Regions from separate parts of the Homo sapiens genome. Here all the other regions are linked to region 1. Evidence: fine-mapped expression QTL. A gene starts in region 1. Each other region holds a variant in brackets. All regions are shown on one strand. Distances are from middle to middle.

Region 1 (10,209 bases):
GTAAGTGCTGTATAAAGTTCACTTTTATTTTTACTGTTTTACCACTACAGAGTTTCATGGTTCAGTTGTGAAAGTTTCCCAAGTGAAAATTATTTGATTGTATCTATAACGAAAGAACATGATTTTATGTTAATTAAGTTTATTTAATTCTAATTATGTTGTCTTACGTTTAATTCAGAAATGTACAAATAAGATCAAATTCAGAATTTAAGTGTACATATCAGCCTGGTACAATATTACCTAGCCACATAAATAGCCTAAATATGTATTACTGTAACTGTACACAGTAGGTGCCTAAACAATATTTGCTGAAATAAATGTATTACAAAGAGTATTGCTAATTATTTTCTAGGGAAGAAAATGAAAACCATCTAACTGCTACAAACATTAACCACAGCTAATAAGTTAAAGTGCATCCAAAACAATCTGTAGTAAGATCTTCACGATATTAAGCACTGACTGCCTTGGGCTGATCTGTTAACTTATTTACAGTAAGTTGGCACTATTTAAACTACACATTCCTTTTCTGATTCAAAATACTATTGCATACTTAAATGGGAAAACAGCAAAGACAAATTTTAGGAAGCCCATATTTTAAATGGCTGTTTTTAAATATACTACTATAAAGAACAGAGAAAATGCCTAAATTACTTCTACATTTAATAATTAGCTACCCTGGAACTTAGGTTGATGGAACTAAATAAAAATATCAAGGATGATATGTTCCATTATTTGCTATGTTATCTGACAGTAAAAGATACCAGTATCAACAGGGTAGTTTAGAGCTTAAGCCATACACTTTGTAAAAGAATATGCACTTGTATTTTTAAGTTAATTAGAAAACAGAAAGTCCACCTATTTTCCACCTTACTATCAATATAACAATTCAACCTTTTGGTATAAACCAATTAGATGAACATCTGGGAAGCATTGACTATTCCAAAATATATATATATATATATATATATATATATATATATATATTTTTTTTTTTTTTTTTTTTTTTTTTTTTTTTGAGATGAGTCTCGCTCTGTCGCCTAGGGTGGAGTGCAGTAGCACGATCTCAGCTCACTGCAACCTCCGCCTCCCTGGTTCAAGCAATTCTCCTGCCTCAGTCTCCCGAGTAGCTGGGACTACAGGCATACGCCGCCACGCCCAGCTAATTTTTTGTATTTTAGTAGAGATGGGGTTTCACCGTGTTGCCCAGGCTGTTCTCCAACTCCTGAACTCAGGCAATCTGCCTGCCTTGGCCTCCCAAAGTGCTGACTATTCCTAATATTTTAAAATACACATTTCTATTTTGAACTATTCTTCCTCCATTTAAATCATACATGAGCTAAAGTATCCTGTTGTTACATGCAGAACAGAAATATCTTTTGGACAAACCGCTACCTAAAAAGAAGTTCCATGAGGCTTTTATTTATAATCAAAACAAAATAAATGAAGTCATGAAACAGCTTAGGCACAGCACAGAAACCATAATGCTACAAGGTACAAGTGACAAGGACTTGTTGGAGGTATACTTTGTTTCTTAAATTTTCAAAACTACATCAGCCGCCTGTGGGTGGTGGCTCACACCTTTAATCTCAGCACTTTGAGAGCCCGAGGCAGGCAGATTGCTTGAGTCCAGGAGTTTGAGATCAGCCTGGGCAACATGGTGAAACTCTGCCTCTCCAAAAAAATTTCAAAATTAGCCAGGTATGGTGGCATGAACCTGTAGTCCCAGCTATTCTGGAGGCTGTGGGAGGATGACTTCAGCCCAGGAGGTCAGGGCTGCAGTGAGCCGAGATCGTGCCACTGCACTACAGCCTGGCCAACAGAGCAAGGTTTTGTTTTGTTTTTTGTCTCAAAAAAACAAACAAACAAACAAAAAACTACATCTCCGTAAACACAGGATTCAAGGACCAAAAAACAAACAAACAAAACAAGTAAGACAAAGTACATTAGCAAATAAAATGACAAAAAAGAACCAAAAATAATCAAACCAAACCAAAATAAGAAAACTTGGTAAGCCTAAAACTAATATGCAGAAACATATTTTAAATTGAGCCCTTAGGGCTACCAACTAAAGTAGAAATTTTTGTAGAAAATCAACGGTAATTTTTTTTCCTGAGCTTTAAAAACAAACACACATTAAGCTGTCTCTGGGTTTGTTTGTTTGTTTGTTTGTTTGTTTTGGTTTGGCAGCTAGGTGGAGGGTCAGGCTTGAAGATCAGCAGCATGGAACACAACTGCTCCAATGACTACACAGGATGCTCATTTCATTTAATGGCTTCAATGCAGAATATACAGGCCAAAGTCATTTTAGAAGAACAAAAGACTCCTAAAACTTTTCAACTTCTACTTCTGCACAAAACAGTTTCTTTCTCTAGTCACTCTTTGAAGGCAAAATGACTTCGGCTTTGGATTTTAAAATCCATGTCACAGATTTCTTATCCTAATAGTCTCATTCATATATGACATATACTGAAATGACCCACTAAATACTATATTGTGCTTTCCAGCCTACAGCTTTAATGGAATTAACACTCGCTACTCTTGAGAGCATGTATAGGACTTCTTGACTTAAAAAAAAATGACCTTGGAAATTAACTGTTTAAGTTGTAATTTCTTTTTTTTTTTTAAGAGAGTCTCACTCTGTTGCCTTGTGGAGCGCAGTGATGTGATCACAGCTCACTGTAACCTCAAAATCTTGGGCTCAAGCAATCCTCCAACCTCAACCTCCTGAGTAGTTGGGACTACAGGCGCACACCACTACACCAAGCTAATTTTGTCTATGTTGCCCAGGTTGGTCTCGAACTCCTGGCCAATCCTCTGGCCTTGGCCTTCCAAAGTGCTGGGGATTATAGGTGTGAACCACCATGCCAGACCTAAACCCTAATTTCTTTATGTTTTGTAAATAAGAGTGCCACTTCTTACTAGTGACAATGGTATATAATCTTTATAACTAGATTTTATTATTTTCTATTGTTTTGAAGACAGAGTGATTTCCCATCATTTTTGGGGTTTAATGTTCTTATCTTAATCTGCATTAATTAAGCTGGCATTCCCATGGCTTAAATGAAGCCCACAAACCTGAAGGTAAGGAAGCAGCTGGAGTAAGCCATACACATTGGGGTTTGTTTTGAAGGATGGAAAATAGGCCAGGTTGGACAGAAGCTAGAGCTAGGTAGTGGGGAGGAGGTACACATAAGAAACTTTCAAAGAGGCTTCACTTAGCAGTTAGATAAGTCCTGAAAGCCAATCAGAAGGGTCCTTCTCCGTGGCTTCTAGGACTAACATGGCCAAGCTCCAAAGTCCTTTGCTAAAAACAGCTGAAGAGAGCCCAATTTTGGAATAAGCCAAGGACTATACACTCTTATATGTATATGTATCATATAATGAAGATTTTTCTATAGCTAATTAGCCAAAAGATAAGCAGGTGCTCAAAGCTGTATTTAAGTTCATACTGAAGTACTACATTTTAAAGCACAATTTATAGATTACAGAAACTGATGACACAAAAACCGCTGCAATCAAGTGCTAGATATACACTATAAACATCGGGAAAAAATAAAGATTACCCAAGCCTATACTCTAGATCACAAAATTTGGGAAAGGGAGCACTAACCATTATTAAATGCAATTCCTTCATGTTATAAATGACTTTAAACCTCTAGGGAAATTTAAGAAAGGTGCCCTAAATCTCAAAATGAGAAAATGATAGTTTTACTACAAAGGTGGAAATGGTAAGGAAAAAAAAATACAAAAGTTAGAAGAATATTCTAAGTAATGTACTTCTAAGTAATGTAATTCTAAGTAAAGTCTGGCTAATGAAGGAAGAGGAAGACAAATAGAAAACTTAATACAGTAAAAATGAAAAAATGCATATGTGCATACTAAGTTTAAAGATTACTTTGAAATTACTATAGTGAACTCTTCAGCAGACCACTTTTCGGAAACAACACAATAAATTCATAAATCTGGGGCTAATGATCTCTCCACAAATTCTGTCCTCTATCATCACAAGTGTCCTGTAAGAAGCGTCCATGCCGAAAACAGAGCTGAACGTCCCAAAATATTGGCGTTTTTGCCTCAGCTGTGCACATCCATTCTCATGGGAACACAAAACTGACAGAACTTCTTCATGACTTGTCAATTAACAAGATCGCGCCAGCCCAACTGCTAGCAGTACCGTGTGCCTGCCACCTGTTAGCTGCTCTTGAGAGAGCCCCAAAACTGAGGTAAAGCGAAGAACTAGGAACGCCTTTGTTGTACCCTAACTATGGAAGCTACCAGAGTTCAGTCTAACCCGGCGCCTTAAGGCAAAACTTCCCCCAGGCTGGGGAAGTCTTCCCATTTCGGGGCTTTGGCAAAGCTCTCCTCTAGCTAAGGACAGGCAGAAGAACCCCAGGAGAAGCACTGTCACCTACTGGTCCCAGGAGGAAGGATCAAAGCTGAAGAAAGTTGGGGGACAAGGAACTAGGACCCTAGGGAGAGGCTCAGTTTCTCGTGGTGAAGAGTGAGCACAATGAGAAGCTGGGCCGTCTCGCTAGGTGAAAGAACGCTGAGATCCCAGATCAGGGGTAGGGGAAAAGAGGTTCTAAAAGAAGGGAGGAGGAGAAAAAAGGAGAGGCAGTGGCTGAGAGAAGCGCTGAGGCGTAAGGCAAGAAACCGAGGTTGGAAAAGGACTGATGAGGCTGAGGAAAAACAGCGAGGCGACAGAGGCACGGAAGCGCGAGAAGGCTAAGCTGAGGTGAATAAGGCGAGGCCAGCGTGAAGGAAAGGGCTGAGGTGAGTGAAGCACTGCAGTGACAAGGGACAGGCGAAGAGACTCCCACCCACAAGGACCGAGGCAGAACTCTAGACCCATCCCCCTTCACGCTGTGCTCGCCCGGCTGCGCTCAGACCCTGTTGGCAGCTGAGACTCACCCAAAGGCTGTAAAAGCCCCACAACAGGACATGGAGATCAGTCCAGACCCACAGTAGAACCAATCGAGCGGAGGAAACCGCGGCGTTAGCGTGACCCGGATGCGCATCGCTAGGAACCGGAAGTAAGCGGCCAGAGTCACCTCACAATCCACACCTCGTTCCACTAGAAACCTCTGGGCGCATGTGTTGAGTCTGACCGGGCGGGGAAGCTTTTAGGCTCCGCCCACTCCGCCGGCCCGGCGAGCCACGCCCATGGCCACGCCCCTCTTAGTGCCTCGGAGACAAGCAGCTTCTGGGTGAGCGCTAGGCAGTCCTGACGGTACTACAGCCTTCACTTTTAAGGAGGTCTTTAAAAATGCGCGTAATCCCTACCTGGCTAAAAGGAACGTAAGAAGTGTTGGGTGCATTTGGTAGATTTAGAAAAACTGGGAAGGAGAATGAGTGGGAAGTTTTGGAAGACATTTGGGAGGCTAGCCCAAGGTGATCTTTTTTTTTTTTTTTTTTTGAGACGGAGTTTCGCTCTTGTTGCCCAGGCTGGAGTGCAATGGCGCGATCTCGGCTCACTGCAACCTCCGCCTCCCGGGTTCAAGCGATCCTCCTGCCTCAGCCTTTCGAGTAGCTGGGATTACAGGCATGTGCCACCACGCCCGGCTAATTTTGTAGTTTTAGTAGAGACGGGGTTTCTCCATGTTGGTCAGGCTGGTCTTGAACTCCCGACCTCAGGTGATCCGCCCGCCTGGGCCTCCCAAAGTGCTGAGATTACAGGCGTGAGCCACCGCGCCCATCCCTTTTTTTTTTTCTTTTTTTGAGACAGAGTCTTGCTCTGTCGCCCAGGCTGGAGTGCAGTGGCGCGATCTCGGCTCACTGCAACCCCCGCCTCCTGGGTTCAAGTGATCCTCCCACCTCAGCCTCCCGAGTAGCTAAGACTACCGGCGCGCACCACCACGCCCGGCTAATTTTTGTATTTTTCGGTAGAGACGGGGTTTCGCCATGTTGCCCAGGCTGGTCTCCAACTCTGGAGCTCGGTTGATCCCTTGGCCTCCCAAAGTGCTGGGATTACAGGCGTGAGCCCCAAGGTGATCTTTTTATCCCCAAATTTAGTTTATTCTTAATATTATATTAGGCTTACAATTCACTTCGTGCACACTGTTTTCGGAAGCAAAATTCTTAAATGTTTCGTTAATTTTAAATTACAACCCAAGTATGGGCTAGAAGCAAGGTTGAATTCAGGCTTTGTGGAGACTTGACGTTTATTCAATTTGGGGGCCCTCTTTAAAATAATCAAGGCCAGGCACAGTGGCTCATGCCTGAAATCCTAGCACTTTGGGACGCCGAGGTCGACCGGTTGCTTGAGCCCCGGAGTTGGAGATCACCTGGGCAACAAAATTAGACCCTGTCTCTACAAAACAAACAAAGCAAAACAACAACAAAAAAAACCCAGAAAAATTAGCCAGGTGTGGTGGCACGCACCTAACTGAGCCCAGGAGGTAGAGGCTGCGGTGAGTTATGATTATGCCACTGCACTCCAGCCTGGGCAACAGAGCGAGACTGTCTAAAAAAAAAAAAAATCCAAAATTACAAATACAATATTAGATATAAAAGTGAACCTTTTATAATGAGAAAAATTACAAACATTTTTATTAGCTCACAAATACCACGAATAACAAAATCCAGAAAAAAAACTATTTTTTCTACATTTTTTGACTGTATATTTGATCACCTCTTCCGATGACAACAATGTACTAAGCAACATCATTTACTAAGATCCTTAACTCCTCTCTCATATCCCACATGTACTCCATCAGCAAGTTCTGCAAGATTTGCCTTCAAAATCTGTCCAGAACCTGACCATTTACTGCCTCCGTTGGTATAAACCAGTCAGTCAGTGACTGTGAGTGCCCTATTTATACTCTTGCCTTCCCACAATCTTTTTTTTTTTTTTTTTTTCAGACAGAGCCTCCCTCTGTCACCCAGGCTGGAGTGTACTGGCCTGATCTTGGCTCAGTGCAACCTCTGCCTCCTGGGTTCTCCTGCCTCAGCCTCCTGAATAGCTGGGATTACAGGGGCCCGCCAGCACGCGCGGCTAATTGTTATATTTTTAGTAGAGACGGGGTTTTGCCATGTTGGCCAGACTGGTCTTGAACTCCTGGCCTCAAGTGATCCACCCGCCTCAGCCTCCCAAAGTGCTGGGATTACAGGTGTGAGCCTCCACGCCCGGCCCCCACAATCTATTAATATAGTAGCAATGGGCTCCTGTTAAAACCCTAATTAGATCATATCCTTCCTCCAATGCATTCCTATTTCAGAGTAAAAACCAAAATCCTTACATTGGTCTACAGGACCCTCAAGATTTGACACCTCCAGTACAGCTCTGCTCTAACCTCAACTCCTACTCCTTCTGTCATCCTTCCCCTTAAAGCACATTGGCCTCTGCCATTCCTCAAAACTACAGGTAGGCCCAGGGCCTTTGTGCTTTTTAATCCATCTGCCTGGAGTGCTCTTCCCCCAGATACCTGCATCATTCATCCGCTCACCTCATTTACATCTTTATTCACATGTCACTTTCTCAATGAGATCTTCCCTGACACTACATTAAAAATTGGAACACTACCATCCTCTTTGTACTTTCCCATCCAACAAGTTGCTTGTAAATTTGGCTTAGTGTCTCTCTCCCCCTGCCAGAATGTAAGTTCCATGAGTCCATGGATGTTTGTCCGATTTGTTCACGGATGTTTTTTCAGCACCAGAATGGAGCCTGGCACACTGTAGGCACTCAGTAAATGTTTGTTGAATGAAGGGCTAAATTGCTCATTTACTTTGGTTTTCCTGATCTGAAACCCTGCAAACTGAGCCACCACCTCCACCAGAGGGAGCCCATGAGTAATCAATGCAATAGCTCCAGAAAAGTTATGCCTAAAGCATTTACATACATATACACTCTGTTTAAGGACAGGAATATGTTCTGAGAAATCCCTCGTTAGGTAGTTTCATCATTGTGCGAACATCGTAAAATGGACTTATACACACCTAAGCTATATGGTATAACCTATTGCTCCTAGGCTATAAATCTGTATAGCATATGACTGTACTGAATACTGTAGGCAATTGTAACACAATGGCAAGTATTTGTGTATTTAAACATATAAAAACATAGAAAAGGTACAGTAAAAATATTAAATAATCTTATGGGACCACCATCATATATGCATTCTATCATTTACCAAAATATCATTATGTGACAGCTATGATTCTAAAACAGAGCTACAAGAAAGCATGCAAATTCCTCCCCAGAGCAGAAGCTGTACCTTGCTGGTGCTCTAGTGTCTTTACAGTCATTTAAGAATAAAATCCAGGCTGGGCGTGGTGGCTCACGCCTATAATCCCAGCACTTTGGGAGGCCGAGGCAGGTGGATCATGATGTCAAGAGATCGAGACCATCCTGGCCAACATGGTGAAACCCCGTCTCTACTAAAAATACAAAAATTAGCTGGGCATGGTGGCATGTGCCTGTAATCCCAGCTTCTCGAGAGGCTGAGGCAAGAGAATTGCTTGAACCAGGACCTGGGAGACGGAGGTTGCAGTGAGCTGAGATCGTGCCACTGCACTCCAGCCTGAGCTACAGAGTGAGACTCTGTCTCAAAAATAATAATAATAATAATAATAATAATAATAATAAAATCCAAAGGCCGGGCACGGTGGCTCCCATCTGTAATCCTAGCACTTTGGGAGGCCGAGGCAGGCAGATCACCTGAGGTCAGGAGTTCAAGATCAGCCTGGCCAATATGGTGAAACCTCATCTCTACAAAACATACAAAAATTAGCCAGGTGTGGTGGCAGGCACCTGTAGTCCCAGCTACTTAGCAGGCTGAGGCATGAGAATCACAGGAGGCAGAGCGTGCAGTAAGCCGAGATGGCACCACTGCACTCCAGCCTGGGTGACAGAGTGAGAGACTCCATCTCGAAAAATAAACAAATATATAAAATAAAATAAAATAATAAAAATAAGACCTCTAATTTATATATTTCCATTTTGAAAAGACATGATGAATGTATGATCAGTGTTTTATAATAGCTATTAATTTAAACCCTCCTGATTGACATATATGAAGTACAATGGTCTGGATTTTATTTCTGTTGATGTTCTATATTGTACTTGAGGCAATTTCTTATGATATACATGATCGTTGACCTTCTAAAAGCAATCAGTAGTTGGTAGGATTGTAAAATGGTGCAACCTTATGGAAAGCCATATGGTGGTTCCTGAAAAAAATTGAAAATAGAACTAACGTATGATCCAGGAATCCCCTTCTGGGTATATATCCCTAAGAATTGAAAGCAGGATCTCCAAGAGATATTTGCACACCCATGTTCATGACAGCACTATTCACAATAGCTAAGAGATGGAAGCAACCCAAATGTTCATTGATGGATGAATGTATAAACAAATTTGGTATACATACAATGGAATACTATGCAACCTTAAAAAGGCAGGAAATTCTGTCTGGGTGCAGTGGCTCATGCCTGTAATCCCAGCACTTTGGGATGCTGAGGCGGGTGGATCACGAGGTCAAGAGATCGAGACCATCCTGGCCAACATGGTGAAACCTTGTTTCTATTAAAAATACAAAAATTAGCTGGGCATGGTGGTGTGCGCCTGTAGTCCCAGCTACTCAGGAGGCTGAGGTAGGAGAATCGATTGAACCCAGGAGGCGGAGGTTGCAGTGAGCTGGGATCACACCATTGCACTCCAGCCTGGTGACAGAGCAAGACTCCACCAAAAAAAAAAAGAGCATGTACACATGCTACAACATGAATAAATCTTGAGGACATTATGCTAAATGAAATAAGCCACTCACAAAAGGACAAATACCATATGATTCCACTGATATGAGTTATATAAATTAGTCAAATTCATAGATATGGAAAGTAGAATGGTGGATATAAAGGGTTGGGGAGAAAGGACAAAAGGGAGTTTCTTTAATGAGTATAGAGTTTCAGTTCTCCAAGATGAAAAGGTTGAGATCTGTTTCATAGAAAGCAAATATACTTAACACTACTAAACTGTATAATTAAAAATGGTTAAGTTGGTAAATTTTATGATATGTGTTTTTACCACAAATAAATAGATTAATAATGTTTAAAATCTGTAGGAATCTAGTCATCACTGTAAAAAAGACATGGGTCACTTTTGCCTACTTGACCCTGCATGGAGATTACTAAAGTCTTTTTCACAGTTTTGTTCAAACTTTCACCAGCAAAACGCCTTTGGAATAGAATAAATTCAAATTTGTAAGATAT
Region 2 (10,209 bases), 39 kb before region 1:
TCATGCACCCTAGAAAGAAGCTTGCTTTGTTCTTCTACTCTCTAGGGAGAGGTGGAAGACACTGTACCAGAGGTTCTATATATCTGGAAAGATAATGCTGACTAATCAAAGGTAAGAGTAGTTTCTACACAGCAAAATTGTAAAAAGAAATGTTGCTTATATAAAAAATATATAGCACAAAATTTATAAAGTTCTCGTATCATTTCTGAAACTGACTTCTAATATTCAAGTATAATAAGGGTTTTTTTTAAATGGTATATATTTTTTGTTTGGTTGGTTTTTGTTTTGTTTTTTTGAGTCAGGGTCTCACTCGGTCACCCAGGCTGGAGTGCAGTGGCTCGATCATGGCTCCTGCAGCTTTGACCTCCCGGGCTCAAGTGATCTTCCTACCTCATCCTCCGAAGTAGCTGGGACTACAGGCATGTGCCACAACACCCAGCTAATTTTTGTAATTTTTGTAGAGATAGGGTTTCATCATGTTGCCCAAGCTGGTCTCAAACTCCTGGTCTCAAGCAATCCGTCCACCTCAGCATCCAAAGTGCTGGAATTACAGGTGTGAGCCACAGTGTCCAGCTTTAATGGTATATTTTGAATGTTCAAATAATTTTTCCTCATTTGTAATTAATTTTAAAGCTAAATCCCCAAGTAAGGTTCATTTTTATCTTGTTACTCAAATGTTTATATTTTTGTAATAGAACTTAATGTACTAAGATGTGATTATGGAAATTGAAGGGTAAGGGCAAGAAATTATATGGAATAGTTGTGTCAGTTTCCCAAACTGGGTGATTTATTATAATTACCTGAATAGTTAATAAAAATAGACTTCTGGACCCCATCTCACACCTACTTACATAGAATTACCAGGGGAAGGGCATAAAACTGAACCAGAATTTTCCTGACATCAATAACTAGTTTGACTTCTACATGTACCTGGTTAAGTATGAGGTTCACTGTTATACCCACTGTTGAAGACTATTTGTAGATCTTATATTTTAGAAGTTGGTGATATTGCTATGATCCAGTATCCACTGGACCAGTTCCTAAAACCCAATGGTCCTAGAATATTATGTTATAGCAACATCCCCTACATACTCAACTGAGCATCTAGAGAATAAATAGAAACAACAGCACCAAGACAGTGAGTTAACTCTAGCACTTGTTAAATATTTAAATTATTATCCTTAGAGAAATGACATACTGCCTCAAAATATAATTATTTTCAAAGTTATATAAACATAAATTTTGCTTAACAATGAATACACCATGAAAAAACAACTGCTCTAAAATAAAATGACCAAAAAAACCCAACAACATCCAAGTCCATAAAGTGGCACAACAAATACCTCCTTCTCATTCAACAGAACTATTAACAACACAAACAACAGATGAATGGATAAAGAAAATGCGGAACAGACATACAATGGAGTATTATTGAGCCTTAAAAAGAGGAAATTCTGACACATGCTACAAATGGATAGACCTTAAAGACATCATGATGAATCACAAAAGGACAAATACTGTATGACTCCATTTCTGTGAGGTACTTAGAGCAGTCACAATCATGCAGACAGAAAGTAGAATGGTGGTTGCCAGGAGCTGGAGATGGGGGAGTGGAGAATATTGTTTAGTGAACATGGAATTTCAGTTTGGAAAGATGAATAAAGTTCTAGAGATGAATGGTAGTGATGGTTGCAAGACAAAGTGATTGTACTTAGTGCCACTAAACTGTACACTTAAAATGGTAAATTGTATATTGTGTGTATTTTATCATAGTAAAAAAATTGCTGAAGGTAAAAGAAGAGATAATTGCAGGAAAAGATGAAGGTGATGGGTTCTTTCAAACAACTGGAGAGGTTAGCCTTCGATAAGAGCAAGGGAATTTCAGAGGAAAGATAAACAATATCCAAGAGAAGCAGATTAAGTAGGTTGATTTGGTGAGAGAAGGGAGATGTTCCTAATCTCTCTTTGAACTAGGGAGCAAGATCCACAGCTGAGTGAATGGAAATAGCAGGAAAGGGAGGGAAAAGGGAGAAGGTAGGGGGCAAGGAGGGAGGGAATAAAGGAATTAAGATGATTTTAGAGGCTGGGAAATCAGACATACCAGGAAGGGGGACTAAGTGCCTGTTTTAGATCTTATCATGAATAGAAACTAGGAACAGTTAGCACAATTTTGTGTTTTTCTCTCACGATGTACAAGTGATTGGGAATAAGTACAGAATAGGTGGATAGTTGGGTTTAATCAGGGTTGTGGTTTTGCTAGGCAAGTATGACAGAAAAAAGTGAGGAAGTTAAGAATGTTTGTAAGGGACTAATTACAGTAGATCTTATAGTTAAGTTTATTTTTCTTTCTTTTTTTTTTTTTAAATGAGACAGCATCTTGCTCTGCCACCAACCCAGGATGGAGTTCAGTGGCGCAATCTTGGCTCACCACAACTTCTGGCCCCTGGGCTCAAGCAATCCTCCTGCCTCAGCCCCGAGTAGCTGGGACTAAAGGTGTGCACCACCATTCCTGGATAATTGTTTTTGTGTTTTTTATAGAGACAGCATCTTGCTATGTCGCCCAGGCTGGTCTCAAACTACTGAACTCAAGCGATCTGCCCACCTGGACCTCCAAAAGTGGAGCCACCACACCTGGCCAGTTAAGTTCCTTTTTTTTTTTGAGACAGAGTCTTTGTCGCCCAGGCTGGAGTGCAGTGGCGCATTCTTGGCTCACTGTAACCTCCGCCTCGTGGGTTCAAGCCATTCTCCTGCCTCAGTCTCCCAAGTAGCTGGGATTATAGGCTCAAGTCACCACGCCGAGCTAATTTTTGTGTTTTTAGTAGAAACAAGGTTCCGCCATGTTGGTCTCTTATAAGGAAGAAACTAAAGTTCTTTTTAAGGGGTGATGGTGAAAAGATGACAGATGATTTAATTGATAGTTTAAGACATCATATGGCTAGCATGGCAGTTCTAGAATAAATGAGCCGGGATGATAGTGTGTGGAGGTAAAAGTGTAGGATTCTTGAAATTAATGTGGTAGAGGTGATGCAGTTACTGGCTCATATGGTTGGTGCACAAACGACAGAAGGTAAGAACTGTGGAAAACTGAAAACCATGGTATGAAGAAGCCAAACTGTGAGGTGCAAACAAGCTGCCTCTTTTCTCTTTTTTTTTTTTTTTTTGAGACAGAGTCTCGCTCTGTCGCCCAGGCTGGAGTGCAGTGGCGCGATCTCAGCTCACCGCAAGCTCCACCTCCCAGGTTCACACCATTCTCCTGCCTCAGCCTCCTGAGTAGCTGGGACCACAGGCGCCCGCCAACACGCCCGGTTAATAATTTTGTATTTTTAGTAGAGACGGGGTTTCACCGTGTTAGCCAGGATGGTCTCGATCTCCTGACCTCGTGATCTGCCCGCCTCAGCCTCCCAAAGTGCTGGGATTACAGGCGTGAGCGACCGTGCCAGGCGCAAGCTTCCTCTTTTCTATAAGAGGAGTGGGGTTAATGACTAAGTCATTTCATAACCATTTGGTAATTAATACCAAATCTCTTGGATTTTATTTATTTCGCTTATGCTTCCTATTCTGTATATTGTACGTCTGACTGAAGAATATGGTGCTTTTCATCTTTACCATTAAGTCTCCTCTATGTAGCACAGTGCCTGATATACAACATGAGTTTGGTACATATTGTTGAATAAATAATGAATGCATAAGAACAAATCAGTGCACAAGTTTCAGGAAAAAACTATTTGGAAAGGAAATTTTAATCTTAAACCAAATAATTTCAAAATGTAACAGCTGATGGTAAGAACCAAAAAGAGGGCAAAGCATGCCCATACGCTAATCAGCATGTGAAAAAAAAAAACAAAACTTATGAGTAGTTCATTAAAAAGAAAGCAAACTTTACATACCTTATAGTTTGCTCTCCTGATTCCTGCATCTTGGCTTTTTTCACCTGCAAAAATAAATATACAAAGGTATCAATGTACTTGATCTGTTTTTTAAATCATTTAGCTACTCAAACAACAGGCTATTAACTATTACAGGATAACTGTTTAATTTTGTTTAGTCTAGATTTAATTAACCCTTGTTATATTTTAGAGCTAGAAATGAAGTTTGTTTTTTAAATGGAGCTCTTCTTTTTAATGAAAAAAGTGTTCTTCTGATTAAAAAAAAACTGTTTACCAGAATTTTTACTCAAGGTAGACAGAATGTTTACTAGGATAAAGTATCCAAGCTTTGATACAAACTAGTTGGTTTTATACTGTAACAGGCAAATTATATTTAAACAAACAGTAAAGATGGGAATCTAAGTATCATCTACTCATTTATTTAACAAAAATGGCTTTATACTTAAGTTAGTTTAGTGTCAAAAATTAATATGAATTCTTATCAGGTTACCAGTAATTTAGAAAATATTGTTAACCCTGTATTTTTTCTTTTCATATTTCACATTTTCTATTTCCTTCTGGGGAGAAGGCACTTCCATTGAAACAGTGTAAGAATCCACAAATGAAAGATAATGGTTAATACTAATGGATTTTTCTGTTTTCATATTACAGAGAATCTGATTTTAGAACTCTCTGGTTAGAACTGGTTGTAGTAGAAACATGTCTAATATGCTTAGCCATTCAAATTATGAATATTTAAAAGTATTTCAAGCTAATAGAAGAAGGCAGAAACTCTCCTAGATAATTTGAAGCAAGCGTATCAGGTGGAATCATAGATATTTAATATTACATTGACTATTTCAGACAAGGTAAATAATACAGGCAAGCCCCATAAAATTTGTCGTGGCCATATACTCCTCATGAGAATACACAACCATGACCAGACATTCTTGGTTCCTTGCTTATGGCATGTCAAAATGTGTTCCATTCAATGTTCTCTTAATTTTCATAGTTACCAAAAAGGAGAAAATAAAGAAACAAAGGCAATTTAAAAAAACATTTCTAAATTTGAAACAAAAATTACATTAAAGCATTTGAAGCAAAAACAAAAAACGAAACCTTGAGGTGGGCAAATCCTGATTAAGCATGACATTAAATCCAAAAGCCATAAAGGAGAAAATAGATATGATTACACAAAAATTTTAAACTTCTATATGATAAAAGACACCATAAAACAACCAGGAGGTTGAGGGATTCCAGGATAGTATGCAGACTGTGACAAAAAAATCTAACTGTATTACCAATGTATACGACTATCTCACTGAAAGAGGTGAGGGAAATATGATCTGACCTAGATAATATAGGAAAACAGTGTTTTGCCTGGAAACTATAAGGCTAAAGACAAGAAAAATTCAACTATCTAGTTTATCTGCCTGCCATAATTTCACAAATGACAAAATATAGCCTTTTTTTATAAAATGTTCTGCCCTTCCTACCTAAAGATGATAGTAGTTACATATGGTCAGATAATAATATATTCTTCCAATAGTGGAGATGAATTTATGCTTAGCTCATCCAAAGACTCTTTGCTATCAAAGAAATGTAATTACGAGCTGGTTGGCTGAGTAACCAAAACAGTCTATACTCTTCAAACAGTAATTTAAACAAAGAAAATTAGAGCACTGAGGAGTCTAACTTATCATAGTCTTCATTTTATTAGAGGTATAGAGCAACAAATTTAGTTAATCAACTCCAAAAGAAAAAAGGATTTAAAAAAAAGGTCCTGGAGCAACATTTTTAAATTTACTTTTTATTTATTATTATTATTATTATTATTATT[A/T]TTTTTTTTGAGACAGGGTCTTGTTCTGTCACCCAGGCTGGAGTGCCATGGCGTAATCTCGGCTCACTGAAACCTCTGTCTCCCGGGTTCAAGCAGTTCTTGTGCCTCAGCCTCTCGAGTAGCAGGGACCACAGGTGCACACCACCATGCCCAGCTAATTTTGCTATTTTTTCTATTTTTAGGAGAGACCGGGTTTCACCACATTGGCCAGGATGGTTTCGAACTCCTGGCCTCAAGTGATCCGTCCACCTTGGTCTCCCAAAGTGCTGGGATTACAGGCGTGAGCCACTGCGCCTGGCCAAAAATTTATTTACTTTCAAGGAAGAATTATGCTTCTTTACGCTCCTTCATTTTTAATTTATTACCGTGCCAACCCAGTGCAGAGTATATATTCATAAATAGAAAGGGAGAAAATGTATCTAAAGTCATATCTACCAAGCAGAAAAGTCTGGGGAAGGAAAGGGTGTTACAATGTTTTTTTTGTTTTGTTTTGTTTTTAACCTCATATGGCCCATTGTTTGTCTTGATTTGAGCAATTATGCCCCCCTCTAAGGCAGGGATAGGAAGCATGTACTAACTAGGCAGTAGAGGCAGGTAAATTAACTAAAGAAGACAGACAGATTTTACTCAATTATAGAAGTATCAGTTCAAACAATACAAGCTAGAAACTGACAGAAAATGATTCCTGGTTGTTAAGAGAAATAGCAAAGATTGAGCAACAATTTTCTGGAGAGTTTACAGAGTAACATAGTACTTGCAATAATGAATACTGAAAACTACACAGCAAAGTGAGCAAAGATTCAAGTAGCAACCAGTCCTACAGAGAACAATTTTCATTAACAAAACCAGTATAGATTATACAAGCAGCTGGTATCCAAGGAATTGGGGCCATACCAGGACAGTAGTAGGACAGTAATACAAGCTGCCAGGAAGTAAGAAAGCAATAAAGCTGAAAAAGCTCCGTTAGGGTTAAAAGTGAAAAAATCAGAATCTCTTTTTGCATGACATAATTTTGTATACAGAAATCCTAACGAATCCATTAAGAAACCACTAGAACTGATAAACAAGTTCAGCAAGGCAGCAAAATACAAGACAAACATACAAAAATCAATTATATTTCTATATACTTGCAGTGAACAATTCAAAAATGAAAAAAAAAATCCATTCACAATAGCATCAAAAGGAATAAAATACTTAGGAATATGGCCGGGTCCAGTGGCTCACGCTTCTAATCCCAGCACTTTGGGAGGCCAAGGCAGGTGGATCACCTGAGGTCAGGAGTCCGAGACCAGGCTGGCCAACATGGTGAAACCCCATCTCTACTAAAATACAAAAATTAGCTGTGTGTGGTGGTGCACGCCTATAATCTCAGCTACTCAGGAGGCTGAGGCAGGAGAATCGTCTGAACCTGGGAGGTGGAGGTCGCAGTAAGCTGAGATTGCACCACTGCACTCCAGCCTGGGTGACAAGGCAAGACTCTGTCTAAAACAAACAAACAAACAAAAAAACTTAGGAATAAACCTAACAGAAGAAGAAGTACAATACACGTTAAAAGAAATTTAAGAAGAGCTAAATAAATGCAAAGACACCCCATATCCAGGGAAAGAAGAATTCATCTTGTAAAGATGGTAATACTCCCCAAATTGGTCTACAGTCAATCCAATCAAAATCCCAGCTGGCTGCATTAAAGAAATTCACAAATTGATCTTAAATTTCATATGGAAATGAAAGTGACCCAGAATAGCTAAAACAATCTTGAAAAAAAAAAAAAAGAACAAAGTTAGAGGACTCACATTTTTCCATTTCTTTTTTATTTTTATTTTTTAAGACAGAGGCTCACTCTGTCACCCTGGCTGGAGTGCAGTGGTGCGATCTCGGCTCACTGCAACCTCCACCTCCTGGGTTCAAGCATTTCTCACGCCTTGGCCTCCCGAGTAGCTGGGACTACAGGTGCGTGCCACCATGCCTGGCTAATTTTTTTGTATGTTTAACGGAGATGGGGTTTCACCATGTTGGCCAGGCTGGTCTCAGATCTCAGGTGATCTGCCCACCTCGGCCTCCCAAATTGCTGGGATTACAGGCATGAGCCACTGCGCCCAGCCCCATTTTTCAATTTCAAAACTTACTATAAAGCTAGAGTAATCAAGACCGTGTGGTACTGGCATAAGGATGGATATATGGATCACTGGAACAGAATTGAGAGTCCTGAAATAGACCTCTACATTTGTTGGGTCAACTGATTTTCAAGAAGGGTACCACATTTACAGTCAAATTATTTTCAGCAAAAGTGCCACGATGATTCAACGAAGGAAGAATAGTCTTTTCAACAAATAAAGCTGAACTCGTACCTCAAGCCATATGCAAAAATTAACTGAAAATGGATCAAAGCACTAAATGTAAAAGCTAAAGCTATAAAACTCTTAGGAGAATATGTATGCTCTCATCACTTGTAAAAATATAGGCCGGAGGCAGTGGCTCACACCTGTAATCCCAACACTTTGGGAGGCTGAGGCAGGTGGATCACGAGGTCAGGAGTTCAAGACCAGCCTGGCCAAGATGGTGAAACCCCATCTCTACTAAAAATACAAAAATTAGCCAGGTGTGGTGGCAGGCGCCTGTAATCCCAGCTACTTGGGAGGCTGAGGCAGGGAACTACCTGAACCCGGGAGGTGGAGGTTGCAGTGAGCCGAGATAGTGACACTGCACTCCAGCCTGGGCAACAGAGTGAGGATTGCTTAAGGTCAGGAGTCTGAGACCAGCTGGGCAACAGAGTAAGACCCCATCTCGACAAAAAATTTAAAAAACAATTGGGTGTGGTGGCTCACACCTGTAATCCTAGGTACTCAGGAGGGTGAGATGGGAGGATTGTTTGAGCCCAGGAGTTCAAGGATGCAGTGAGCCACGATTGTGCCACTGTACTCCAGTCTGGGTGACAAAATGAGACCCCGTCTCAAAAAAAAAAAAAAAAAAAAAAAAACAGAAAAAGAAAAAAGGAAGATGCCTTAAAATTTATTCTGGTAATGGTTACAAAACCATTTTAGAATAGACTAAAAACTACTGCACTGTATACGCTAAAAGGGTGAATTGTAGGATATGTAAATTACATGTCAATAAAGCTGGTATCTTAAAAAATGACATAATCCTATGGGCATATAATGGCTAATGATAACACAAAAAGAAAGAAGCACTGACAAATTCATAAATCAGCATTCTATTTTTGCTTCTGCTACAATGTATAATCACACTTTAAATATAACACAGCAAGGAAACAAAAAACCCAGTATACAAATTCAGAATATCCAGGCTCAAGGCTAAGTTCTGAGAGTTAATTCACTGCGTGTCTTTTCTGTATCTGTTTCTTCACCTGTAAAAAAGAAGATACAACTACCTACTTCATAGGGCTCATGTTTCAACAGCAGGAAACAGCAGCATTAACAGTACAAGGATGCTGGCTGAATAAACTTAAGGATGTGCACTGTTAACATAATATGTAAAGATGAAATTTAAACAGGAAAAGAGTGAACTGCTTATGAAAAACAAAGCGCTATGTAATTGTTAAATTTTAGTGTTATTACCATAGACAGCAAGAACAAAGTTGAATCCCAGAAATTTCAAGACAGGCTTAAGAAACAGGACTCTCTAGTTAAGAAAATTGTATTAAGCATCTCAAATGTCATTCTGAAATTACTCTGTGATGACTTACAAGTAATGGCTATGAAGGTTTAAACAAGAGGCAAAAGCATGCTAGTGCTAGGTAAATTGTAATCTTGGCAATAATAAATATAATGGTAGGGTAAAAGTCGTCATGGAGACTATAAAAAGGATGTTTATGTCAAGATTTATCCAACACTGTCCAACAAACAGAAGGACACTGTTCTGTTTACTAAAAAGTCATATTCCATATGCTAGAGGGGTAAAGGGTTTGATCATAACCTAGATGAAATTTCACACAAAAAACAATTTAATGCCATTTTCATTGACTGTGCTTACTAATAGCTATCTAATTATTAATTTGACTTCAAGAACTTAACATAAGGAAAGCAGGACCTAGAGAGGGAGGTAAGCATTCCAAATTATTAGAGAGGTAAATATTTATGGCAGAGACAACTTCCTGTTCTACCACTGCATGTTAGGTGTGACTTCTGATGGAGGCAAAAAAATCTTTTTGTCTTCTCTATCAAGAAGAGTAATCTACAAAATGTAAACAATAGCATACCTAAATTTTTCAAAAAGAGTTTATTCCCATATTTATAAGCAAGCACCTCAATTATTTTAAATAAGTTCTAACCCTCCAGATTCACAGAAGCTTTATCCCATAGACCTGTAACTTAACAAACATGATTGCTAAACCAGTGTTTATCATCTCTGAAAAATCACAGAGAATAAGAGAGGTGCTTGAAACAGAATATAAAGAAATGAGGACAAGGTGGGGGACCTGCTTGAGCCCAGGAGTTCGAGACCAGCCTGGGTAACAGGGCAAAACCCCGTGTCTACTGAAAATAC
Region 3 (10,209 bases), 80 kb before region 1:
TAGTTTAAAAAGGGATTAATCTATTTTAGAAAGATATTTTATCTATATATTTTACTTATATATATCTGGCATATATTTGGCTAAATAAAATGCTCAATTTGGGCTGTTAAAAGTGTGTTAAGGAATAAGACATCAGCCTCTGGAATTTATTAATATAATCTTGAGACTCTGCTCTATTTTGAGCCTCATTTCTATACTTTAATCTTCACAAAATGCCATTCTCCTACAACTTCAGCTTTCAGCATTGGTTCTAGTAGTTTCTAACTTTACCACTTTACCATCAATTCTGCCTGACCATGTAGCCTGCCTAATACAAGCCATTTGCAAGCCATTTGTTGAAGTTTTACATGGAAAGTGAAAAGCCAGCCAACAGGGGTAGCAGAGAAATAATTTGTTATGTGTCAGAAGAGGGACTGACTATATAGTCAGAAGAGGGACAGTTACAACAAAGAAGACTCAAATTACCTTTCCATATTTCTGGGCATAGGATCCAGTAAGAAGTGAGTGGAAGATGATGATGGTTTCATCCAAGTCCCACAGAAATACCCGCTGAGGAAAGAAAATATAAAAAATGAGTATATTTTCCAATTACAATGGAATGAAACCAGAAATCAATAACAGAAAGAGAACTGGGAAATTCATAAATATGTAGGAATTAAACAATACAATCCTAAACAACCAATGCGTCAAAGAAGAAATCATAAGTGAAATCAGAATATACCTTGAGTTGAATGAAAACAGAAATAAAACATTAAATTTGTGGAATACAGTGAAAGCAGTGCTAAGAGGAAAAATTATAGCTTATTTTATATATATGTATTACATTTTACATATATATATGTATTTTATACATACATTAAAAAAGACAAATGATCCCAAATCTATGACCTAATTGCATATCTTAAGAAACTAGAAAAACAGCAAAATAAACATAAAGCTAGCAGTAGGAAGGAAATAACAATGGCTAGAGCAGAGATAAATAGAAGAGAGACTACAAAAACAACAGAGAAAAATCAATGAAACAAAAAGTTGGTTCTTTGAAAATATCTATAAAATTCACAACCTTTGGCTAAATTGACTAAGGGAAAAAAAAGAAGATTCAAATGACTAAAATCAGAAATGAAAGTGGGGACATCACTACCAGTTTTATAGAAATAAGGATTACAAGAGAATACTATGCACAGTTGTATACCAAGAGATTGGATAACCCAGGTGAAATGGTCAAATTCCTAGAAATACATAGCATAAAGTACCAAAACTGTCTCAAGAAGGAATACAAAATCCGGTAAGAGCTATAACTAGAGTAAGGAGATTGAATGCATAATTAAAAACATCCCAACAAAGAAAAGCCCAAGACAAGATGGTTTTAATGGTGAGTTCTTCCAAACATTTACAGAATTAACACGAATCCTCCTTAAACTCTTACAAAAAAAGGAAGAGGAGGGAATACTTCCTGACTAATGCAATGAGGCATTATCCTGATACCAAAGTCAGACTAAGGCACTGTAAGAAAACTACAGACCAACATCTCTTGTGAAAATCAATATAAAAATACTCAACAGGCCAGGCACAGTGGCTCACACCTGTAAACCTAGCACTGTGAGAGCCTGAAGCAGGCAGATCGCTTGAGCCCAGGAGTTTGAGACCAGCCTGGACAACATGGCAAAACACCGTCTCTACAAAAAAACACAAAAATTACCCAGTTCCGGTGGTGCATGCCGGTAGTCCCAGCTACTTGGGAGGCTGAGGCGGGAGGATCACTTGGGCGTGGGAAGTCAAGGATGCAGTGTGCAGGGACCACACCACTGCACTCCAGTCTGGGCAACGAAGTGAGAACCTGTCTCAAAAAAAACCCAAAAAACAAAAAACCCCCAAAAAACCACACATCTATAAAACTAAACAAAATAGAGGTAAACCAAATTCAGCAGCATATTAAAAGAATTAAACATCATGGCCGGGCATGGTGGCTCATGCCTATAATTCCAGCACTTTGTGAGGCCAAGGCAGGAGGATCACCTGAGGTCAGGAGTTCGAGACCAGCCTGGCCAACCTGGTGAAACCTCGTCTCTACTAAAAATACAAAAATTAGCTGGGTGTGGTGGTGCACACTTGTAGTCCCAGCTACTTGGGAGGCTGAGGCAGGAGAATCACTTGAACCCAGGAGGCAGAGGTTGCAGTGAGCTGAGATTGTGCCACTGCACTCCAGTGTGGGCAACAGAGAGAGGTTCTGTCTCAAAAAAAAAAAAAGAATTAAACATCATAACCAAGTGAGATTAGTTCTCAGAACATAAGGATGTAAGGATGGTTCATTCAACATTAAAAAATTAATTAGGAGTGCAAAAGGCTTATTGGAAAAAAAAATTATGCAAAGTAATGCATCACATTAATAGAACAGAGGGGGAAAAAGCTACATGATAATCTCAACTGATGCAGAAAATGCATTTGACAACATTCAACACCCTTTCTATTCCTAGTTTATTATTTTTTCAATAAATGAGGGATAGAAGGGAATGTTATCAATATGATAAAGGCCATATATAAAAAATCCATAACTAGCCGGGCGCGGTGGCTCACGCCTGCAATCCCAGCACTTTGAGAGACTGAAGCAGGTGGATCACAAGGTCAGGAGATAGAGACCATCCTCGCTAACATGGTGAAACCCCATCTCTACTAAAAACACAAAAAATTAACCGGGTGTGGTGGCACGCGCCTGTAATCCCAGCTACTCAGGAGTCCGAGGCAGGAGAATCGCTTGAACCTGGGAAGCGGAGGTTGCAGTGAGCTGAGATCATGCCACTGCACTCCAGACTGGGTGACAGAGCATGACTCCATCTCCAAAAAATAAATAAAAAATAAATAAAAATAAAAATAAATCCATAACTAGTACCACACCTAGTGGTGAAAGACTGAAAGTTTTACTCCTGAGACAAGGATGTCTGTTTTTGCCACTTCTATTCAACATAGTACTGGAAGTTCTAGCCAGAGAGATTTGGCAAGAAAGGGGAAAAAGACATCCAATTTGGAAAGGAAGAAGCAAAATTATCTGTTTGCAGATGACATAATCTTTTTTTTTTTTTTTTTTTTTTTTGAGAAAGAGTGTCGCTCTGTCACCCAGGCTGAAGTGTAGTGGTGCAATCTGGGCTCACTGCAACCTCCACCTCCTAGGTTCAAGCGATTCTCCTGCCTCAGCCTCCCAAGTAGCTGGGATTACAGGTGTGCACCACCAGGTCCGGCTAATTTTTTTTTATTTTTGTACTTTCAGTAGAGACAGGGTTTTGCCACGTTGACCAGGCTGGTCTCAAATTCCTGACCTCAGGTGATCTGCCCACAAAGTGCTGGGATTAGAGGCGTGAGCCACTGTCCCTGGCCGATGTGATCTTATATGTAGAAAACCTTAAATAACCCAGAGAAAATTGTTAAAGCTAATAAATAAATTCAGATATCAGCTGTATTTCTTTCTTTCTTTCTTTTTTTTTTTTTTTCCGAGACAGTCTTGCTCTGTCACCCAGGCTGGAGTGCAGTGGTACGATCTCGGCTCACTGCAACCTCCGCCTCCCAGGTTGAAGCAGTTCTCTTGCCTTAGCCTCCCGAGTAGCTGGGGTTACAGGCGCCTGCCACCATGCCCGTCTAATTTTTGTATTTTTAGTAGAGACGGGGTTTCACCATGTTGGTCAGGCCGGTCTTGAACTCCTGACCTTGTGATCTGCCCACCTCAGCCTCCCAAAGTGCTGGGATTACAGACTGAGCCACTGCGCCCGGCCAATCAGCTGTATTTCTATATACTTGCAATGAATAATTTGAAAAGGAAATTTAAAAACCTTTTGTGATAGCATCAAAAAGAAAATACTTAGGAATAAATTTAACCAAGTAGGCATAGCTAAATAAACGGAAAGACATCCATGTTCATGGATTAGAAGACTTAATATTGTAAAGAAGACAATACTACCCAAACCAACCTACAAATTCAACGCAATCCCTATCAAAATCCAATAGTAGTTTTTTAAAAAAATAGAAAATTGCATTCTAAAATTCTTATGAATCTCAAGGAACCCCAAATAGCCAAAACTGTCTTGAAATAGAACAAAGTTGAAGGATTCACACTTCCTGATTTCAAAACTTACAGTAACCAAAACAGTGTGGTACTAGCATAAGGATAGACATAGAGACGAATGAAATAAACCGAGAGTCTAAAAATAAAGCCTTACAAATATGATCAATTTTTCTTTTTCTTTTTTTAGTTTAGTTTTTTACCTTCTTTTAGTATTTAACCTACAGCCAACATCATAAGTTAATTTTTAA[T/C]AGGATGCCAAAACCATTCAATAAGGAACGTCTTTTCAACAAATAGTGCTGGGAAAACTGGATATCCATATGCAAAATAATAAAGTTAGACCATTATCTTACACCATATACAAAACTAACTCAAAATGGAGAACAGCCTAAATTTAAGAGCTAAACGATGAAAATCTCAGAAAAAATACATAAAAATCTTCATAACCGTGTATTAAGTATTACACCAAGAAAACAAAACAAAACAAAAAGAAACAACAAGTATTAGACCAAAAGCACAGCAATAATAGAAATCAGACTTCCTAAACATTAAAAATTTTTGTGCTTCAAAGCACAAAAATTGAGAGAGTGAAAAGACGACCTACAGAATGGGAGAAAATATTTGAAGATTATATATCTGATTAATATAAGGGATTAATAATCTAGAATATTCTAGAATATTAATATAGAATATACAAAGAACTCCTACAACTCAACAATGAAAAACCAAACAACCCAGTTTAAAAGTGGGCAAAGGTTCTCATGCTTGTAATCCCAGCACTTTGGGAGGCTGAGGTGGGTGGATCACCTGAGGTCAGCAGTTCAAGACCAGCCTGGCCAACATGGTGAAACCCCGTCTCTACTAAAAATACAAAAATTAACCAGGCGTGGTGGCATGTGCCTGTAATCCCAGCTACTCAGGAGGCTGAGGCACAAGAATTGCTTGAACCTGGGAGGCAGAGGTTGCAATGAGCCGAGATTGTGCCACTGCACTAGGGAAATGCAAATCAAAGCCACAATAAGATACCACTTCACATCCATTAGAATAGCTATTATCAAAAAAATGGGAAATAACAAGTGTTGGCGAGGATGTGAACAAACTGGAACCTTTATGTATCGCTGGTAAGAGTATAAAACCGTGCAGCCACAATGAAAAATAGTTTGGTGGTTTCTCAAAAAGTGGAGCACAGAATTACAATAGCATCCAGCAATTCCACTCCTACATATATACCAAAAAGAATTGATAAGATGAACTCAGATAGATAATTGTACACCAATGGTCAAAGCAGCATTACTCACAATAGCACAAAGGTGACAAACCCCAAGTGTCCATCAACAGATGAATGGATAAACAAAATGTGGTATATACATATAATAAAATATTCAGACATAAAAAGGAATGAAATTCTGGTATGTGCTACAACATGGATGAACCTTAAAAACATTATGGTAGGCAGGGCATGGTGGCTCACGTCTGTAATCCCAGCACTATGGGAGGCCGAGGCAGGCGGATCACGAGGTCAGGAGTTTAAGAACAGACTGACCAACATGTTGAAACCCTGTCTCTACTAAAAATACAAAAATTAGCCAGGCATGGTGGTGTGCACCTATAATCCCAGCTACTCTGGAGGCTGAGGCAGGAGAATCACTTGAACCCGGGAGGCAGAGGTCACGGTAAGCCGAGATCGTGCCACTGCACTCCAGCCTGAGACTCCATCTCAAAACAACAACAACAACAACAACAACAACAAAAAACCATTATGGTAAATGAAATAAGTCTGGCACAAAAGGATACATTTTCTGTGATTCCACTTATATGAGATATCTAGAATAAGAAGTCAAAGACAGAAAGTAGAATAGAGGTTACCAGAGGTTAGAAGAAGGGGAGAATGGGGAGTTACTGCTTAATGGGTACAGAGTTTTCATTTGGAATCATGAAAAAGTTCTAGAAATATACAGTGGTGATGGTTAGACAATATTGAGAATGTATAATGACACTAAATTGTACACTTAAAAATGGCTAAAATGGTAAATTTTATGTATATTTTAGACAATTAAAAAATGAGTTATCAGTTTTTCCTAAGAAATATATCAGAAATTTACTTTTTCTTTCTTTCTTCTTCACTCCAAACCTCTGAAAAAAGAGAAAAGGCTTCAAATACAGGCTCAGTTCACCTATGTCTTAAGAGCACTTATCAATGGATTCATAGTTAAATATGTATTTTCCCCTCAGTACATAATAGCACTATAGAAAAACGGAAAACAGAAAACAAAAAGATAATACAAAAACTCCACTAATTTTAGCACTCTGCATGACCTTTATGTCTTTAATGATGAAGTCAAATGTATGTCCATAATAAACTCATATAGTACTTACACTACAGAATAAATCAGCACCAGTCTCATTAATAAGTTACCAGATCTGTTTGCGCCTTACAGAAACTTGGCTAAAAGCACTCTAGTCCTTTCCTTTTAAATTTCTTTTCTTTTTGAGACAGAGTCTCACTCTGTTGCCCTGGCTGGAGTGCAGTGGCCCGATCATAGCTCACTGCAGCCTCAACCTGCCAGGCTCAAGTGATCCTCCCATCTCAGCCTCCCAAGTAGGTGGGACTACAGGTGTGCAGCTAATTCTTGTATATATATATTTTTAGAGATGGGGGTCTCACTATGTTGCCTAGGCTGGTCTCAAGCGATCCTCCCGCTTCAGCCTCCCAAAGTGCTGGGATTACAGATGTAAGCCACCGCACCTGACCCTTTTAAAATTTTAAATAGAGAACAGTATGACTTTACTTGTAACTCCCTCTGCTTTCTGAATATGATGAATTGTTTCTGTTCTCTTCTGGAATATACAGAATAATTTGTTCTTTTTACATTTTTCTTTTAACGTGGCCAATTTAGTTTATTTTGCTCAGGAATTAAAGGGCACATAACATAGTGCACATTATCTCTGTGAGCTTCAAAAACATGTTTGATAAACTTAAGAAGTGAGAAAGAACAAAGTAGGTAACTAAATCAGTTTCTTCTCATACTTCTAATTCACTGTCTTGGGAAGAAGTGGCATCAGCTTTCCTCTTGCCCCGGTTCTTGCTAGTCATGTTTTTCCTGGACTGATCATCAGTATCTTTACTTGGTGTAGTCTGGGACAAAGATGGACTTGTAGAAGGGTCTCCTGGAAAGAAAAAGTGAAACATATGTTGTCAGGAGTCACAGGCTATAAGAATCAGGGCAGGAAGAGGGTTAGTGGACTCTCTGCCCTTGTGAGTCATAATGCAGGGATAAAGGTTGGAAAGCTAAACCTTATGTAAGCAATTATGAAGTGTACATCTAGGCATTGAGCATCAGCACTGGCTAACATCAGAAAAGTTATAACCAGACTTTATATGCTTACCCCATGATAGAAGAAAATATCAATGAAGTTGTTTTGCCAAGAAAAAGCTGAACCTGAATCTTCATGGTCAAACTTGTAGATTAGAGTTTCTCAACCTGGCACAACTGACATTTTGGATCAGATAATTATTTGTTGTGGGGGGATGTCTTGTGCATTATAGGATGTTTGGTTAAGCAGTATCCTTAGCATCTACCCACTAGATGCCAGAAGCACCGCCCCACCTAGTGTAACAACCAAAAATGTTTCCATACATTGCCAACAGTTGAAAACAACTGTTCATTCACCAATTTACTATAAAATACAGAAGGCAGCAGGACATGTTAAACCACCTTATGAGGATATAACTGTCAAAATTCAGACTGGGAAACAGTATGGGATCAACACTCCAGTTTCTTCAACAAACAAACTACAAGGGGGAGAAAAAGAGACGGGAGGATTTATAGGTTAAAATAGAGATGAAACACAAAATACCCATAATTACCAATCACAATTTATGGACCTTATATTTGGATCCTAATTTTCCCTCCTCAAATTTTCTATTTATTTATTATTTCTATTTACTAATGCGATAAAAACTGTATATGCTTTATGTTGTTTTGAAATATGTATACACTGTGGAATGGGTTGGATCCTACTTTAAACAAAAGGGAAACAAAACTCATAACATTTATGAGAAAGCTGGAAATACAAATACATTTTGGTACTTGATAATACAAAATTAAGACATTATTAATATTGAACTTTTAAAGATGGGATAATGCCATTGTGGTTATGTTAATAAGTACCATACTTATCTTTTAGAGAACAATGCCTGGAATCTGGGGAGGGAGCTAGATGATGTATAGCTGAAACAAAATTGTCTATAAGTTGATAACTGTTGAAGATGAATGATGGATATGTAAGTGTTCATCACACTAGCCTTGCAACTTTTCTCTATGTTTGAAATTCTCCAATATTCAAAAGTTAAAATTGTTATAACAAAGATATTTAGAAAAATGACTTTAAAACCTTAGTTTTTAATCAACACTTGTAATTATTTCAAATTTATGTAAGTTTGAAGTGGCGACCATTTGTATGTCCACTTATTAGACTGGTAGGGTGACCGCACAGAAAACTGTTCACTTGTTATATAGTACTGTTTCTAAACATGCATCAGTGCCAATGATAAACAGTGCTTTCCTCGAACCACATGATGTGAAAGCCAACTACCAAATTTTCATTAAATATAAATAAAAAGTGTGTGTATATATATGTTTATTAAATGTGTGTCTAATCTTTTATGTCAAAGGTTTTTAAGTTGGACACTGTAATTCATTGATACACTTCAGAGCTGTGAGCATACTGAAATTGTAGGTTAAATTGTATATATTTCTCTGAGGGAAAAGGACCATGCTTTCCTCAGAATCTTAAAGGGATCCTGGACATAGAAAGAACTATGGCTCTGAGGCCTTAGCAGCAGTTCAAAACCTGCGCAAGACTAAAACTGGAGTCCTCCAACTTTTACAAAATATTATAACATGCTGAAGCTCCCTGTGGCAAGTGGGTTAAAGCTACAGGGAGGGTAGAGTACGAGTCAGAAAGAGTCTTTTAGTTCTTGATACTTTTCTGTTCCGTTCTCAGCATCAGGTATACATTCAGCCTACCAATGACTCACAGCCTGCTTCCAATACTCCTCACCTCAGAGGGAAAGCCAAAAGCATGGTAACAATGACTTAAGACAGAACAAAATCATCCTTACCATTGCCTAAAAACAACTGTTGGATGAAGTGACCTTAAGCCAAAGTTTTCAGAGCTGCGGTGCTTACCAGAGGAAAGTCTCTGTGCTGCAGGTGCAGGCGCCATGACACTAGGCTTCTCCGACTGGTATGTGGTTGCTGCTAATGTGGTGCTCTCTGCATCACTGTTAGTCTGACCTGTGACTCCAAAGCTGGAGCTGGGGTAGCAGGCCTGGTACTGATTCTGACCAAGAATAGTATAGGTGGGATAATCCTGCAGGCCAAAGGAAATAAGAAAACAAGACTCTTATAGCATACATTAATCTCAACACAAGAGGCTTTCTTCTCCCTCTTTCTTATTCATAATTATTTTTCTAAAACATTAATTTGACTTCTCATTTACCTACCTAAAAGTCTCCAATCTAAATCAATGATTTTCAAAATGCATTCTGTGGAAACCTAAGTCAAGAGATGTCCCAGGAGCAGTCTTGGAATGAGGAAATGCTGAGAGGGAAGGGTCTTCTGTACTCTCATAAACATACACATGGTGTCCCTTTTTGTACTCTAACAGCCTCTTCCCCCAGTTTTATGTACCGAATTTCTGCACAGAATTTGAGGGAAAGATTCTACTCTAAGAGGTTTACAAACTGTTGCACTAGATAATAGCACTTCTAAGGACAACAAAACAAAACTTAAACTTAAGCAAACAAAAAAAGCACATATCCTACATTAAAATGTCTTAATTTAAAAACTGATTATCAGCTGGGTGCAGTGGCTCATGCCTGTAATCTCAGCACTTTGGAAGGCCAAGATGGGTGGATCACTTGAGGTCAGGAGTTCAAGACCAGCCTGACCAACATGGTGAAACCCTGTTTCTACTAAAAATACAAAAATTAGCCTGGCGTGGTGGCACATGCCTGAAATCCCAGCTACTTGGGAGGCTAAGGCACAAGAATCGCTTGAACCTGGAAAGCGGAGGTTGCAGTGAGCCGAGATTGCATCACTGCACTCCAGCCTGGGTGACAAAGCGAGACCCTGTCTCAAAACAAAACAAACAAA

Direction of the effects. Alleles are on the strand shown, and positions count from the first base shown. SD is a standard deviation of normalised expression in the study named. Not every link is listed here.
For the expression in subcutaneous fat of the gene that starts at base 4,998 in region 1, allele T in region 2 goes with a higher level than allele A (small effect, 0.28 SD a copy in FUSION).

What was found. PIP is the estimated chance that this variant, and not a neighbour inherited with it, causes the effect.
Region 2: its variant is fine-mapped to the expression of EYA3 in subcutaneous fat (FUSION, PIP 0.91).
Region 3: its variant is fine-mapped to the expression of EYA3 in whole blood (TOPMed, PIP 0.98).

The regions. Positions count from the first base shown.
Region 1 is chr1:28,083,613-28,093,821 of GRCh38, forward strand. EYA3 (EYA transcriptional coactivator and phosphatase 3) reads right to left here and starts at 4,998. Exons shown (of 18, transcript NM_001990.4): 1 at 4,912-4,998. RefSeq lists enhancers at 4,598-4,657, 4,868-4,937.
Region 2 is chr1:28,044,496-28,054,704 of GRCh38, forward strand. EYA3 (EYA transcriptional coactivator and phosphatase 3) reads right to left here. Exons shown (of 18, transcript NM_001990.4): 3 at 3,888-3,931. Among named protein-coding and RNA genes, the nearest start is that of EYA3, 39 kb to the right of the region's middle. The variant A/T (reference allele first, on the strand shown) is at 5,707.
Region 3 is chr1:28,003,871-28,014,079 of GRCh38, forward strand. It overlaps EYA3 (EYA transcriptional coactivator and phosphatase 3), which reads right to left. Exons shown (of 18, transcript NM_001990.4): 9 at 9,241-9,424; 10 at 7,077-7,216; 11 at 466-549. Among named protein-coding and RNA genes, the nearest start is that of XKR8, 49 kb to the left of the region's middle. The variant T/C (reference allele first, on the strand shown) is at 4,300.